Linked DNA regions of Homo sapiens. The protein of the gene in region 1 interacts with the protein of each later gene in a pairwise test. Each region holds a gene or a part of one and is shown on either strand. Other genes may lie near its edges.

Region 1 (3,750 bases):
GTTCAAGGCTGCAGTGAGCTAGGATCGCTCCACTGCATCCTAGCCGGGGCGACAGACAGACATCCTATCTCAAAAAACAAACCAAAAAAACCCCATGAGTTTTGGGACAGAGCTGGGCTCAAAAGAGGTCTCTGACACCATGGGATGCATGACTATGGTGGAGTCAAAACTGTCTGGGGCTCAGGTTCCTTATCTGTAAAATAAGGACAATGACAGCAGGACTTCATAAACACTAAATGAGAGACTCTACATAAAGCCTTAGCTCAGGGGCTGGCACTTGTACGCCGTTAGCTGTTACATTATCCTTATTACTATGTTAGTTAAGAAGTGGCTCCCCGAACCAGCTGCAACAGAGTCACTTGGGGAACTTACGTGTGCAGAACCTCCAGGGATAGAGCTCAAGAACCTGAACTTTTTTTTTCCCCCTCTTTTTCTTTTTGAGAGAGTTTTGCCCTGTCGCCCAGACTGGAGTGCAGTGGCACAATCTTGGTTCACTGCAGCCTCTGCCTCCTGGGTTCAAGCGATACTGGCGCCTCAACTTCCCAAGCAGCTGGGATTACAGGTGTGTGCCACCATGCCTGGCTAACATATGTATATATTATGTGTGTGTGTGTGTATATATATATATAAAATACATGATATATAAAAATATATATAACATAATAATATGTAGTATACATAAATGTATACGGTATATATAATACATATATATAATTTTTTTTTTGAGACGCAGTCTCACCCTGTCGCCCAGGCTAGAGTGCACTGGCGGATCTCGGCTCATTGCAACCTCTGTCTCGCGGGTTCAAGCGTCTGTCCTGCCTCAGCCTCCCGGGTAGCTTGGACTACAGGCGCGCACCACCCCACCCGGCTAATTTTTTAAATTTTTTGGTGGAGACCGGGTTTCATCATGTTGGCCAGGCTGGTCTCGAACTCCTGACCTCGTGATCCGCCGCCTCGGCCTCCCAGAGTGCTGGGATTACAGGCGTGAGCCACCGCGCCCAGCCAAACCTGCACTTTTAAAGCTACCCTAGGTGACCTGACAGTGTGGCGCAGGTCTGTTGACTGGCTCTACGTGCCAACGATATCACACAAACGCTCCGTGCTCGGTGTCTCGGGGCCTAGTTCAAGTCCCAGGTCAGCCACTTCCCTGGAAAGGCCAGCTTTCCACTGGGGATAACAACAGGGCAGCAACATCGACTCTGCAGCGCTGTAAGGTTCCAGGGCAGGGGAGGCGCTCACCAGCCAGACTCATGCTCCACCGCTGCCCACGGCTGCTCGCTCACACGCGGGCTAGGCACAGCGCGACCACGTTTGCCCGGCCTCTTCCAGGCAGACGGTTTTCCCTGGCCCTGAGGCCGCCGGTGCCGCCGCTGCCGGCCTCGATTCCCCCGGGTGCAACGCCCCCAGACCATGCTTCCCGCCGGGCACGCAGGGGGCGCACGGCGCCCGCCGCCCAGCCCGGAGCTCGCCGCCCGGCCCCCGGCCCCCGGCCCGACTCGGCTTCCCCTCCCCGGTAGCGCCCGACTCGGGGCTCACCATGGCAGCCGCTCTGCCTCCGGGGCTCAAACTCCGACTTCCTGGCCCCGCGGCCGGGGATCAAGCGTGGTCGGCGGGTCAGAGGTCAAGGAAAGCCGCAGAGAGCGCGTGCGCGATACGGCGCTGGGCATGCGCATTGCCTCAGTCTAAGGGCGGGCCACCGGGAGCGTCTTAGCGGCTCGGGGCGGGGTCGGAGGCGGGGTTTGACTGAGCCTGCGTCGGGCTCTGGATAACTGGGGGCGGGCTTGGGAGGGCAAGGGGCGTTACCGGGAGTCTCAATTGCCCGCGTGCTTACCCCAGTGCGCTGGAGCAGCTAAGCACATCGGTCAGACGTGGGGCGATTTCTGCCCTTGATTTTGCCAAAATATTTGGGAATGCAACATTATATGAAATCAATGAACATAATATGGAGTAGGATGCTAAATTCTCAAAAATACTTTAGAAAATAGAAAACTTCAAAATAGGTTTCATCCACATTCCTCCTGCCTGAGAAGCTCGTTCCCTTCTTCAAATCTTTGCTCAAATGTCACCTCAATGAGGCCCACCTGGACCCCTTAAAACGCCGTGACTTGCCCTCCATGAATGAAAAAAGTAACAGCTTTATTGAGATATAATCCATACACTGTAGATTTCATGATTTTCAAGTGCACAGTCCAATGCCTTTTATTCACAGAGCTGTGCCACTGTCACCACTATTAGTTCCAGAACGTTTTCATCACCCATTAGTCACTCCCCAGCCCCCTCCCCCAGCCCCTGTCAACCACTCATTTTTCTCTCTATGGATTCACAGGTTCCGGACATTTCATAGAAATGGAATCATACAAGCCAGGCGTGGTGGCTCATGCCTGCAATCTCAAAACTTTGGGAGGCCGAGGTGGATCGCTTGAGGTCAGGAACTCAAGGCCAGGCTGGGCAACATGGTGAAACCCCATCTCTACAAATACAAAAATTAGCCGGGTGTGGTGGCAGGTGCCTGTAATCCCAGCTACTTGGGAGGCTGAGTGGTGGATCTCTTGAGCCCGGGAGGTACAGGCTGCAGTGAGCTGTGATCACTGCACTCCAGCCTGGGTGACAGAGTCAGGCCCTGCCTCAAAAAAAAAAAAAAAAAAAAAAAAGGTAAAAATGAAAAATGAAAAAAAAGAAGAAATTGAATCATACAATGTGCAGCCTTTTGTGACTGGCTTATCCTCCCTTCTTGTCTCTATTTTTCTTCCAAGACTCTGATCACCCTCTACCATACCACATAATTTACTTATTTATTTTATTTATCATTTTGAGACAGGGTCTCACCCTGTCGCCCAGGCTGGAGTCCAGTGGCACAATCCTGCCTCACTGCAACCTCCACCTCCCAGGTTCAGGCGATGCTCATGCTTTAGCCTCCTGAGTAGCTGGGATTACAGGCATGGACCACCATGCCCCATTAATTTTTGAATTTTTAGTAGAGACAGGGTTTCACCATGTTGGCCAGGCTGGTCTTGAACTACTGGTCTCAAATGATCCACCCGCCACAGCCTCCCAAAGTGCTGGGATTATAGGCATGTGACACTGTGCCCAACCGGTTTTTTATTTTTAAATTATTTTTCCTTTTTTTTTTTTTTTTGAGATGAAGTCTTGCTCTGTCACCCAGGCTGGAGAGCAGTGGCCCAATCTTGGCTCACTGCGATCTCCACCTCCTGGGTTCAAGTGATCCTCCCACTTCAGCCTCCGAAAGTGCTGGGATTACAGGTGTAAGCCACCGTGCCCAGCCAAAAAAAAATTTTTTTTTTTCAAGATAGGGTCTCACTCTGTTGCCCAGGCTGCAGTACAGTAGCATGATCATGGCTCACTGCAGTCTTGACCTTCCAGCCTTGAGTGATACTTTCACCTCAGCTTTCTGAGTAGCTGGGACCACAGGCATGTGCCAACACATGTGGTTAATGTTTGTTTTTTGTCTTTTTGAGAGCGTCTCCCTGTTGCCCAGCCTGGAGTGCAGTGGCATGACCTCGGCTCACTGCAACCTCTGCTTCCTGGGTTCAAGAGATTCTCTTGCCTCAGCCTCCTGAGTAGCTGGGACTACAGGCATGGGCCACCATGTCCGGCTAATTTTTTGTATTTTTAGTAAAGACGGGGTTTCACCGTGTTAGCCAGGATGGTCTCGTGCTCCTGACCTCGTGATCCGCCTGCCTTGGCCTCCCGAAGTGCTCGGATTACAGGCGTGAGCCACCGCGCCCAGCT
Region 2 (3,750 bases), on another chromosome or scaffold:
TCACTGCAACCTCTGCCTCCCAGGTTCAAGCGATTCTCCTGCCTCAGCCTCCCGAGTAGCTGGGACTACAGGCACCCACCACGCCCAGCTAATTTTTGTATTTTTAGTAGAGATGGGATTTCACCATGTTGGCCAGGATGGTCTCACTCTCTTGACCTCATGATGCACCCACCTTCGGCCTCCCAAAGTGCTGGGATTACAGGCATGAGCCACCGCGCCCAGCTGGGGATCAGAATTTTTAAGGACAACTCGGTGAGTAGGGGGAAGCCAGTGAGCTGGGAGTGCTGATTGGTCAGGTCAAAGATGAAATCACAGGGAGTCCAAGTTGTCTTGCGTTATCAGTTCCTGGGTGGGGGCCACGAGATCAGATGAGCCAGTTTATCGATCTGGGTGATGCCAGCTGATTCATCAAGTGCGGGGTCTGCAAAATATCTCAAGCACTGGTGGTAGTTTTTACAATAGTGATGTTAGCTCCAGCAGCAATTTGGGGAGGGTCAGAATCTTGTAGCCTCCAGCTGCATGACTCCTAAGTCATAATTTCTGATCTTGTGGCTAATTTGTTAGTCCTACAAAGGCAGTCTAGTCCCCAGGCAAGAAGGAGGTTTGTTTTGGGAAAGGGCTTTTATCATCTTTGTTTCAAACTATAAACTATGAATTACATTCCTCCCAAAGTTAGTTTGGCCTACGGCCAGGAATGTACAAGACAGCTTGGAGGTTAGAAGCAAGATGGTGTTGATTAGGTCAGATCTCTTTCTCAGTTGTAATTTTGCAATGGCGGTTTAATTCCCAGTCCAGTTCTCTTTATACTGCTATGCAATGCATGTGCTCATGTTCTGGTATGTACTATTATTCTGTGTCAGTGTTATCTTCCCTACAAGATTGTAAATTTCTAGGACCTAACTTCTTAGACATGCTAATAATATTAACTAAGTGAACAAATTAATAGACCCTCAAAACTTTAAATTCAGGAATAGAAAAAAAATAAAGCTTTTTCTTCCTGTCAGCTGATTTTGCAAAGGGTATAAGGAGCCAAAGAGCTGCCACGTTGGTACAGAAGTTGGAAAACACCATACGCTTCAACTGCTGGTTAATTTTTGCTCTAAAAACTTGATGGAGGCCAGGCGCGGTGACTCACGCCTGTAATCTCAGCACTTTGGGAGGCTGAAGCGGGCGGATCACCTGAGGTCAGGAGTTTGAGACCAGCCTGGCCAACATGGTGAAACCTCGTCTCTACTAAAAATACACAAATTAGCCAGGTGTGGTGGCACGTGCCTTTAATCCCAGGTACTCGGGAGGCAGAGGGTGCAGTGAGCCAGAGATTGCGCCACTGCACTCAGCCTGGGCAACAGAGCGAGACTCCATCTCAAAAAAAAAAAAAAGCTTAATAATAAAATGGGCTTTTATATATACAAATCAGCACAAACTCATTTGAGGGAGAGTAAGATTTACCTACTTGCTCACAACTTTTTTTCCCCTGCCTCAGGCTCCTGAGTAGCTGGGATTACAGGGACGCACCACCACACCCAGCTAATCTTTGTATTTTTAGTAGAGACGAGGTTTCACCATGTCGGCCAAGCTGGTGTGATCCACCCGCCTCGGTCTCCCAAAGTGCTGGGATTACAGCGTGAGCCACCGCACCCGGCCACAACTTTCTTCTGTGTAATTTCACCTTAAATACAGCCATTTACTTGGGGGTGGAGTAAGCAAATTGCCTCTTTAATTTCTCTCCCGGGGTGGTAGAACTGTGGCATTAAACAGAAGTGCGAACAGAAGTTGAGAGTGGGAAGAAAGGCTGCCCGGAAGGGGGTCAGGAAAGCTCAGGCAAGCCCACCCTCAGGCACTACAGCTAGACTCCGAGCTTACTGGGCAGTCATCTGATTCGACCAACATCAGTTCGCAGGGCTTAAGCCCAGTCCCTTACGGCGGCCTGGGGAGGGACCAGGCCCAAGTATATAAAGCTCCCTGAGGGTCCGCGTTGGCTTTGCGCCTGTGAGTGTGATTCAAGAACGTCCCAGTGCCCTTGGCTCCTTTCGGAGTGTGACCCCGTGCTTGCACGGGACACGTTACCCAGCTCGGGTGAGAAGGGTATCTTCCGGGAACCTCGCCTTTAATAGCACAACGAGCGCAGAGTCCACTGGATCTGCGAGAAGAAACCGCGCTAACTAGTTTGTCCCTACGGCCGCCTCGTAGTCACTGCCGCGGCGCCTTGAGTCTCCGGGCCGCCTTGCCATGGCTGCCCGTGGTGTCATCGCTCCAGTTGGCGAGAGTTTGCGCTACGCTGAGTACTTGCAGCCCTCGGCCAAACGGCCAGACGCCGACGTCGACCAGCAGAGACTGGTGAGTCCTGCCAGCGGCCCCCACCCCTCTCTGGCTCCCTTGTAGTTTCTGCTTCAGCCCCCTCTACCGCCTCACCCTTGAACCTTTGTACTCCCCCGCATTCGCTCACGGTCTGTGCCCTAGCGCTCACTTGTTCAGTGGAGAGACCGCTTTGTGCTGGGCTTTGACGCCTGGGCGTGGAAGACGGAGCAGTTCTGAGGATCTGTCTCCTCAAGGAGCTTCCAGTCTTGTCTGGGACACAAACCAGAAAACAGGCAATTGCAAATACAGTAAAATAAGTGCTGTATGTGGATTTTCCTATCTCATAGGAGGCCCTAAAAACGTCTTGCAGGGGACGTGGTGGGATCAGGGACGCTTCTTGGAGAAAGCTGTAGTTAAAAATTAAGATCTGAATGAATAAAAACAGTCCATTCAGCAAGGAGAAGGGGAAAAAGTGTTTCGGGTACCAGGACTACTGTCTCCAAAGTCTCCGGCACAGAAACAGGGCCCAGTTGGAAACTCCAAGTGGTGTATTCAGGATGAACTGTAGAGCTGGAAAAAGGAAGGGTCTAACAGAAAACTGTCCAACAGAAGCATATTGTGAGCCACATACGTATTTTTACGTTTTTTTTTTTTTTTTTTTTTTTTGAGACGGAGTCTCGCTCTGTCGCCCAGGCTGGAGTGCAGTGGCGCGATCTCGGCTCACTGCAAGCTCCGCCTCCCGGTTTCAGGCCATTCTCCTGCCTCAGCCTCCCAAGTAGCTGGGACTACAGGCGCCTGCCACCACTCCCGGCTAATTTTTTGTATTTTTAGTAGAGACGGGGGTTTCACCGTGTTAGCCAGGATGGTCTCGATCTGCTTACCTCGTGATCCGCCCGCCTCGGCCTCCCAAAGTGCTGGGATTACAGGCGTGAGCCACCGCGTCCGGCATATTTTTAAGTTTTTTGTAGCCATATTAAACAACTGAAGAGAAACAGGTGGGTTTGATTTTAACCATGTATTTTCTTTAACCTGATATATGCACAGTTGCATGGTAATTTTCAACATTCAATATGAAATATTGCCCAAGTGGTGGTTTAGGCTTGTAATCCCAGCGCTTTAGGAAGCCCAGGCAGGAGGATCACTTGAGGCCATGAGTTTGGAGGACAGCCTGGGCAACACAGGAGACCCCATCTCTGCTAAAAAAAAAAAAAAAAAATTAGCTGGGTGTGGTGGTGTGAGCCTGTAGTCCTAGCTGCTTGGGAGGCTGGGTCGGGAGAATCACTTGAGCCCAGGAGTTGAGGTTATAGTGAGCTATGATTTCGCCACTGCACTCCAGCCTGAGAGACAGAGCTAGACCCTGTCTCCAACAAAGAAAAAAAAATGAGGCAGTAGAGATTTAGAAAGTTTTAAGTAACTGGTCCAGGATCATCCCTGGTAAGTGGCAGATCTACG
Region 3 (3,750 bases), on another chromosome or scaffold:
GGACTTGAAGCTGATTATTTCGGAAGAAAAATTCTCAAGCTCGGAGAGGGAGGGGTCCTCGAGATGGTGGGGAGATGAACCATAGAAACACTGGGGCTTCTCCTCCGGGTCCTCCGAGCAGGAGGGTCGAAGGTCCTCAAACTCTTCATCCAGACTCACCAGTGGGGCCTCCATTCTTGCTCAGCAGGAGAACAACAGCGACTTTCAGGATGAGTTTATCTAAAAGAAATGAACAGCGTAATGTGAGTTTAGACCAGGCTAATCTAAATAATAGAGTTAACTTTAGAGACACACCTGCTTCCAATTCCCTACTCCAAAAAACAAGGCACTGGTTAAGTACGAAGCTCCTGGACAAGATCGTCTAGGTTTGCATTCTGTTCTGTCCTACCAGCTGTGACCTTGGGCAAGTGATTAATTGCTCTGTGCTTCTTATTCTTCTCAAGACAGATATAATACTGAACCCACCTCAAAGGGCTGTTAGAAGACTAAAGGAGTAAACACAGGTGAGTGCTTAAAACAGTACCTGGAAGATAATAAGTGCCAATATTATTGAATACTTTCTGTTGGTGTTTTAGTATTATTATTTTTATTACTATTACTATTACCACAGATCCATATCCTTAACTATGTGATCTGAAAGCTGAAAATTCTCCATGACTTGTTTGGCAGCAAAATGTGACATGATCTAAACTCATCTGGCAACTAAACATGACCAACATGAATATAAAGCTGTTCATGGCTTTAATTTATCCCATTTTGTGTGTTTTGCTGCAGAAATATTAACTTTTTAATTACAAAGATTGCTATCCCAGATCCCACTGGATGAAATGCGGAATGTACACTCTATTACTACTTTCCAAAATCTGAAATAATCTGAATTCCAAATGCCTGGCCCCAGGGGTTTTGGATAAGGGTTTGTATACCTAGATATTACTACCCTTATCAATAAATAGTAGAAACTAATAAAACATTGGCTGGATGTGGTGGCTCATGCTTGTAATCCCAGCACTTTGGGAGGTTGAGGTGGGAGGATCATTTGAGCTCACTCAGGAGTTCAAGACCAGCCTGGGCAACATAGTAAGGTCCCATCTCTATTTTTATTTTTTTAAAAAAACTAATAAAACATCAATAGAGACCTTCCAATAAATGCCTGAGTTGTTTTTGTTTCGTTTCGCTTTTGAGACATAGCTTCACTCTGTGGCCCAGGCTGGAGTGCAGTGGTGTGATCTCAGCTCACTGCAACCTACACCTCTGGGTTCCACCAATCCTCATGCCTTGGCCTCCCAAGTAGCTGCGTGTGCCACCACACCCAGCTAATTTTTGTATTATTAGTAGAGATGGGGTTTCACCATGTTGGCCAGGCTGGTCTCGAACTCCTGACCTCAGGTGATCTACCTGCCTCAGCCTCCCAAAGTTCTGGGATTACAGGCATGAGCCACCGTGCCCAGACAAGCACCCAAGGTTTTCCCACACATAGAGCATATGCCTAGGAGCAGAGGAATAGACTAAATGATCTATTATCCTGTATCCTGTAAGAAACAGACCCAACTACCCATGTGCTCCAAAGCCATACTCCATAACCATCTTGGGCACTGCACCCTGGAACGCTGCACACACAGAACTCCCTTCAGTTCCCACCAACTGTGGGACCTCTACCCCTCATCGGGCCATCTTCATGCACTGCTTCCAACTGTGATTTATCCATCTGTGTGTACATCTGGGCCCCATTCAATTTTAACTTAAATTCCTCGAGGACACAGAAATCCTCTGGATATCTTCCCTGGCTCCAAATATACACTGCCTACCCTGTGGCTAGGCAGTCAATCAATATGTGCTCGTTGAAAAAATGATCTATCTCCCACATACAGTTTTCCATTTTCAGTTTCAGGCAGCACAAGCATTGCTGACTATCATACCCTTCTCTACACGCTCAACAGAAAGGCTACCAAGCTTTTCTCTTCGGTCTATAGGGTTATTGATATAGTTAGGTGCTCAAATTGGAGGCGCTTCCTGAGGGGAACCAGACAGCAAAATTCATGGATTTTGCCCTAGGAGTGCCCATTCTCCATCTCTACCTACAAAACTAAAACTCTAAATAAGCAAGGCAAAGGACATGCCAGGCAAGAACACTGCCAGTTTGTACCGGGATTTTGCTGGGATTAAGTTGATTACCGTTGCTTTAAAACATATTTGGAGCATTTACAGTTTGCAAAGGCAACATGATAGGACCTTTGAATACAAAAATATATACAAGTAGTACCATATCTTGGAAAGAAGACAGGCTCGAGAGCCAACAGATCTGCCAATGGCTGGCTGAGTGACAAGCATCATTGGTCCTGATTTCCTCATTTGTTATAAGGAAGGTGTTGGTACAGAGTTAACATCTTTAGGAGTTATTTTTAATAAATCAATAATTTAATTAATCATTTTGATTGAAGTAATATGTTTATTTAATCCAATATATCCAAAGTGTTACCATTTCAAAATGTAATCCACAAAAAAACTAATGAGGCAGTTTTTATTCTTTTTTTATACTAAGCCCTTTGAAATCCAGTGTATATTTTCCATTTACAGTACATCTCACTTTGGACTAGCCACATTGCAAGTGCTCAACAGTCAAATGTGGCCTGTGGCTACCGCAAGGGACAACACAGCTCTAAAGCAAACACAAGTAATTGCCAGTCAGGGGTTCTTCATCTTCAGTACATAGACCCCTGCAGGCTCTTTGAAGGTAACTATATTTCAATGAAATTGGTTTCCTTTACAAGACTAAGTATTTTATTTTATGCATTTAAAAACATTATTTGGAGAAGGAGCCCACAGGCTTCTCCATACCACCAAAGGAGGTCATAGTGCAAAAAAGATTAAGAATCCCTGAGCAACAAAAAAGTGAGATTAGAAAAGATGGCAGAATGCAGTAGAGAGTAAAACAGTTTTCACAGCCCAGGGATTTGTGTTGATTAAGGCAGTACTCTGTGATGGCTAAGAGCATAGGCTTTGGGTTCCTGTCCTGGTCCTGTCACTCCTAGTTGGGAGACTTTGGGCAAGTTATCAACCTCACTGTGCCTCAATTTCATCATCTATAAAATGGAGTTTAAAACAGTGCTTCCCTTGAAGATTACTTTTTGGACTAAATGAGATCATCTTTGAAGTGTTAAGTACAATGTGCAGAATATAGAAAGCATCCAATAAATATCAATCATTCTAGAAAAATCAAAGCTGGGCACGGTGGCTCACACCTGTAATCCCAGCAACTGGAGAGGCTGAGGCAGGAGGATTGGTTGAGCCCATGAGTTTGAGGCTATAGTGAGCTATGATCACACTACTGTATGCCAGCCTGGGTGACAAAGTGAGACCCTATCTTTAAAAAAAAAAAAAAAAAAGTTAAAAATAATTCTAGGAAAACCAGGATAGCTAACTTACATAGAAATGTGATGTGGGGGCTGGGCACAGTGGCTCATGCCTGTAATCCCAGCACTTTGGGAGGCTGAGGTGCGTGGATCACCTGAGGTCAGGAGTTCAAGACCAGCCTGGCCAACATGGCAAAACCCTGTCTCTACTAAAAATACAAAAAAAAAAAATTAGCTGAGCATGGTGGCAGGTGCCTGTAATCCCAGCTACTTGGGAGGCTGAGGCAGGAGAATCGCTTGAGCCCAAGAGGCAGAGGTTGCAGTGAGCCGAGATCATGCCATTGCACTCCAGCCTGGGCAACAAGAGCGAAACTCCATCTCAAGAAAGAAAGAAAGAAAG

What was found.
Region 2: the proteins of PAM16 (region 1) and DNAJC15 interact in binary tests that used the Homo sapiens proteins (3 or more experiments, as listed by UniProt).
Region 3: the proteins of PAM16 (region 1) and FEZ1 interact in a two-hybrid assay, tested with the Homo sapiens proteins (2 studies listed by BioGRID and IntAct).

Annotation. Positions count from the first base shown.
Region 1 is NC_000016.10:4,349,696-4,353,445, forward strand, and holds the start of PAM16 (mitochondrial import inner membrane translocase subunit TIM16), read right to left. Parts: upstream 1,627-3,750; 5' UTR 1,540-1,626; coding exon 1,537-1,539; intron 1-1,536. UniProt on the Homo sapiens protein: Regulates ATP-dependent protein translocation into the mitochondrial matrix. Inhibits DNAJC19 stimulation of HSPA9/Mortalin ATPase activity.
Region 2 is NC_000013.11:43,021,398-43,025,147, forward strand, and holds the start of DNAJC15 (dnaJ homolog subfamily C member 15), read left to right. Parts: upstream 1-2,188; 5' UTR 2,189-2,229; coding exon 2,230-2,337; intron 2,338-3,750. UniProt on the Homo sapiens protein: Negative regulator of the mitochondrial respiratory chain. Prevents mitochondrial hyperpolarization state and restricts mitochondrial generation of ATP. Acts as an import component of the TIM23 translocase complex. Stimulates the ATPase activity of HSPA9.
Region 3 is NC_000011.10:125,489,604-125,493,353, forward strand, and holds part of FEZ1 (fasciculation and elongation protein zeta-1), read right to left. Parts: intron 220-3,750; 5' UTR 175-219; coding exon 1-174. UniProt on the Homo sapiens protein: May be involved in axonal outgrowth as component of the network of molecules that regulate cellular morphology and axon guidance machinery.